Regions from separate parts of the Homo sapiens genome. Here region 2 is linked to region 1. The links come from fine-mapping of genetic effects on gene expression. Tissue or cell type: whole blood. Region 1 holds a variant in brackets; the other region holds the start of a gene. All regions are shown on one strand. Distances are from middle to middle.

What was found. PIP is the estimated chance that this variant, and not a neighbour inherited with it, causes the effect.
Region 2: SRGAP3 starts here. The variant in region 1 is fine-mapped to the expression of SRGAP3 in whole blood (TOPMed, PIP above 0.99).

Annotation. Positions count from the first base shown.
Region 1 is chr3:9,034,129-9,036,728 of GRCh38, forward strand. All of the region lies in intron 11 of SRGAP3 (SLIT-ROBO Rho GTPase activating protein 3), which reads right to left. Among named protein-coding and RNA genes, the nearest start is that of RAD18, 72 kb to the left of the region's middle. The variant T/C (reference allele first, on the strand shown) is at 1,638.
Region 2 is chr3:9,248,361-9,250,960 of GRCh38, forward strand. It overlaps SRGAP3 (SLIT-ROBO Rho GTPase activating protein 3), which reads right to left and starts at 1,286. Exons shown (of 22, transcript NM_014850.4): 1 at 525-1,286. The coding sequence starts at 591. SRGAP3-AS4 (SRGAP3 antisense RNA 4) reads left to right here and starts at 1,396. Exons shown (of 3, transcript NR_146969.1): 1 at 1,396-1,461. RefSeq lists an enhancer at 1,065-1,304.

The DNA of each region.
Region 1 (2,600 bases):
ATATACCTGTGTTGGCTTATTTGCTCATTTCACCACACAAGTTGGCCTGACTCAATGGTGCCAGCCTTCTGGGGCAAAGGCCTTTTGAAGGTTAAGAAGAGGGCCCCTAACCAAGAGAGGCAGTTCATTTTCAAATGGCTTGGTTCAAAATTTGGGTAGCAACAAGTGGGGACTCAGCCAGGCACAGATAATGTCCACACATGACAAGCAAAGACCTGGTCCCCCAAGTCTTGATTGATTTCTGTGAGCGGGCAAGAAATCTTCCAGACTATGCAGCCAATCAGGATTAATGAGATTCATGCTGCCTCTGCTGACTGGGCTTGTGGTACCTGTCTCCTTCGGTAAGCCAGCCATCCCCAGGGACCTCTAACCAACTTCTCCTAGGTGTTTGAGTATTGAGCAAATGCTGCTAGCTCCAGTACATGCATGGGCAAAAACCAGGTGAATCCAAATATCATGCCACCCAAACAATGGAAACAAAATAACAGCACAGATCAAAATTTTGAAAAGAAACAACAGGCAAGATTCTTTCAAGCCCATCTTGGATCTATGTCAATTTGGTTAGCTAAGTCCATGTCATTTATTTTTCAAAAATTACTTATTTTTTTTTGAGGATGTATGTATGTGGGGTGGGATTTCTTACAAGAGCTGCTCTTAAATTTTCAAATACCAAAGGCAAAAGAGAGTGTCAAAAATGTGACACAAGGCCAAAGGTTTTAAGTTTGGGGATTAGAAATAACTTGATGATAGCAACATTGTCACCCTGTTTTCATAGTGTTTGGCTTGTTTTTGAACATTCCCAGATCATTTCCTTATCACATTGCATGACAACCTCACAACAACCCTGTGAGGCTGGGAAAGAATATTCAATTCACTTTACATACAAGGCCAGTGAGCCCACAAAAGATGAAGAAACTTGCCTAAGGTCACACAAATAAAATGTGATTGAGGCTGGTGGTAAAATTCAGCTCTTCCTACTCTCAAGGATCTAGTGTGAGTATGAAAGTGATTTTATCATAGAACATCCAGAAGTAACATTAAATTATCTGTTAAATTCTCATGGCCAGGAAGAGCGGAGACTCTAAAAGCAGGTGTTGGACACTCAATATCAAAAAACCTACGGTGCCCAACTGGAGGGTTTCCTTAAAAGAAAGTCCTAAGTGTTTTTTGTTTTTTCTTAAATTCTACAAAGTGGAAAAAAGGGGAAATAGCATATGTTTTCCCATTTTTCCTGCCCAATCCAGAAAGCAAAGGACTGTGTGAATCACACGAGGATTTCTTTCTTTGTGTGGTGCTCTGTGCACTGTCTGGAATCTCTGACAAGGAAACGTAGCTATCCCAACTTTGCACAATATCAAATCTATATCGACTTACTGAAGTGCTGGGTGGGGCACAAAGTGGGGAGCAGGGGGGCAGCTCGGCCAAGGAAAGTGGGGCAGCCTAAGCCTTCCATCTCTTCTGCTGCTCAGATGCAGAGCAAAAAGGAAAGAAAGAAAGAAAGAGAGGCAGGGAAAACAGGAACAGAGAAAGCCACAGAGAGGAAGAAAGAGAAACCAGAGACCAATGTCCCCTTTCTGCCTTTTAATCAAGATGAAAATTAACACACGTTGGCAACACAGGAAATAGCCTCAAAATTA[T/C]CCTGCAACTAAAGGGATGTGATGAAAAATTCCCCTAGATAACCTAATAGACTTGGAGGTCAACATCCCAAATGGTGGCAATGCTGTAGGGCAATGCCAGTCGGGCCCTTGGAGGCTATTCATGGGCTGTGTACTGCGTTGCATCTGCCTGAACAAGATCTCAAGTGATTTCACCTCTAATCCAGACCACGAGGGCATGTCAACCTGGGTAAGGGGAGCCAGACATTCATTTGAATCACAATAATCAAACCTTATATTTGCATCTTGCTTTGACATTTGCAATACGCTTTTAAACTTAAGTGCATTATCACATCTGGCCATCCTGAATTACAGGGTTATTATGAATTTGGTCTATTCTAAGATAAGGTTCTGAAGTGTGAGAAAAATATAACATGCTGCAGCCCATATGCAACACCAGTTCCTCTATACAAGGTCAACAGCAACTTAGCTGAGGGGATCCTGCTCAAATAACCATCCAGAAATGATATCCACCTCGTGTGGGAGTCCATGGAAGATACAGAGAGAGCCATAGGACAGAGACATTGTTAGCAACAATTTCCACAAGTTAAATCATGATTTTGGAGGTAAGGGGAGACTTTTAGTTTACTAACAAAGTTGTCTTTGACCTTGACCAGGAACCAGAGTACACAGGGCTATGTCTGCAATTGAACGCAGGGTAGCTGCAGTTGAATGCAGGGTGTCTAAGTGGGAGGTCTGATAAACTCAGCTTGGATTTCCCAGGCCCTAGGTCAAGGAGGGTGTGGAAGACAACACTTCAGAGGGCTTTATTTAAAACACAAAACAAAACAAAACAAAACAAAACAAAACACACAAACCCTCAACTTTCCCCTGAGGGAAGACCCTGAGACCTGGCCAAGTGTTTGATTACAGATCTCCTCTCCCACACTCTGCTGGAACAAACTTCTCTGCGTGAGTTCTAGGAATTAGGAGGAAGTGAGGGAC
Region 2 (2,600 bases), 210 kb after region 1:
ACAAAGAAGTGCCGCCCAGGGATGCTGCCTCGCTGTGCACATGCATGTGAATTCCGGCCCAGAGAAAGAGGCGGAGGCAAAACCACCACCACCAACAGAAACCAAAAAGGGGGAGGAAAAAAAGAGCAGATGGTAAAAAAATACCCCAATATTAAAGGGCTTTTACCATGGCAGGGAAGGGGTGGAGGTAGTGACTATCAAAATGGCCTTAGAGTGACATGTCACCGCCAAGATGATGGGGTATCAGCGACACTCCTAAAGTCAGGCATAGGATCCTCCTCACACACCTGCAATGCAGAGACTGCTGCCCATTCCATAATCCACACTCCCAGCCCCAGCGCTATCTGCAGTTGAAACCAGTCCGGACTTGTGCGGCTGCCACTGTTACTCCTCACAAAAAGATTATTGATGCATAACATTTCATAATGGCAGAGAGGAAAACGGGGGGCAGCGGGGGATGGGAACCAGAACAAGAGAAAAACGAAAGGGGAGGAGAAGGAAAACTCTCCCAGCCCGCATCTCACCTTTTATTTGGGCTTCATATTCAGCAATGATCTCTTTGTCTTTCTTGAACTTAGTTTGAGATGACATCTTCTGACGTGGCCAAAGGAACTGACAGGCTGTTTGATTTATTTCTCCTTTTCTTTTCGAGTCCTCTCTCAAGCCCTGGTAATCACACAGCTCTGGTCGATTTCACAGGTTTAGGGACTAATCTCTTTCACTTGGCTGCAGAGCAGGGAGAAAAATCCTTCTCCTTCTGGAAGGAAAAATCTCTTTACTTGCCGAGAAATGGCTCTAGTAGCTTGCCCTGGTCAGCTCCTCTTGCAAAAGAAGAATCACCCTAGGAGCACAGTAACCTGCCCCAGATTTTCAAAGATTTTTCTTCCAAAAATAATAATAATAGTAATAACCAAGCGCACTCACACACACATGCACACGTACACACACTCACGCATGCACAGGCACACTCACCGGGACACGCACACAGTTGTGCTGTGCACACAGGCATACACACACACACCCTCACACGCACACACACTCGCTGGATCACTCACACACACACATCCACGAGAGGCGCGGCGCCTCTTTGGTCGTGCAGCCAGCCCCTGGCTTGCTTTTGAAGGCTCTGCTAAGTCGATGGTCAGGTTGCCAAAGGGCCGGTCATCTCGCATCCTCCCTCCCTTCGGTGCCTCTGGTCTGATGTCCAGTGAGGATCAAAGCCAGGAGAGCGAGATGGAAGTTTTCCTGCTGCAACGCTTAAGCTCCGGTGAACACAAGGCTGGACTGCTCGCCCTGCAGGGCTGGCTGAGCTCTCCCCCACTGCTCACGTCACTAGACTCCGCCTCCCGGATTTTATAACAACTGACACATTGTAGCCTACAGGAGAGCAGAACTCACTGCAAGCAAAAAGGGGAAGAAACGCTCACAAAAGGGAAGGCAGCAGGAAAAGTAATCGGGTTGGTAAGTCTTGAGAGGCTTCTGCAAACTCCAAACATTAGCACTTGGGTTAGGGATTTTTCTTCCAAAAACTTAAGATCCTCCCTTTTTTTGCACTGTGCAATTTAATTCAGTTTCTGGAATCAACAGCTATATGATGGTTTGTCACTCTACTGGGATAGTCTAGCAGAGGGCCTGACCCATGTAGGGAAAAGCATCAATATTTGTTGAGCAGTTACTTGGTGGCAGAGACGATGCGAGGAGTTAAAGGCATGCAGCTTAGCAAAGCCACGCAGAGCAGGCACACTGGAGGCAGAACAGCTGGGTGGGTCATTGGCTTGTGGGGCTCTGGGCAAATTCATAAGTCAGACTGAGCCTCAGTTTCCTAGATAGTAAAATCAGCTCTCTTTGGAGGCTATGTTATTCATTCTTTCAACAGATATTTACTGAATGCTTACTATAGGTCTAGCACCGTTCTGGGTACAGGGATACAGCAATGATCAGAACTGGCACACACAAAAATCCCTGACCTTCTGAAGCTCCCGGGGCTCCACATCACACAACTCCAGCAGTTTCCACCATTCATGCTAATATTCTTAGTAAAAAGCACCCCTGGAGTAGAAAGCATTGTGAATGGTGCCCCCTGGAGTTGTACGAGGCAAGAGGCCCTGGGAGAGGAAGACCAAAAATAAGCACAGTAAGTATATTATATAATATCATACAAAATGTAAAGTGCTATGGGAAAAAATATTGCAGGGTAAGGAACATCGGGAATGAGAGGAGCTCTTGAAAAGATCAAAGAAAAATGCAAAGCTAAGCTTAGCACAGTCTCTGGTGCATAGCAAGCACTCAATAAACAGTAGCAACTGTTATTACCCTTTTATATCCCCCAACAACCTAACAACATAGGTATAAGCACCACTCTTTCACAGACAAAGGAGCAGAGGCTCAGATATGGGAAGTGACTTACCCAAGGTCACCAGCCTTCCAACCCAGGCTCAAAGTCTCCTGCATTCTACAAGGGAGACCAAACCCATTTCATGTGGAATTAAGGTAGAATAAGATTCATTCTGTAAAAACTGAGTCAAGCACTAAAGAGTCGCTGATCACTGGAATTTCATATGCTAAGATTGTCACTAATGTGTATTGGCCCCTGACTGTCC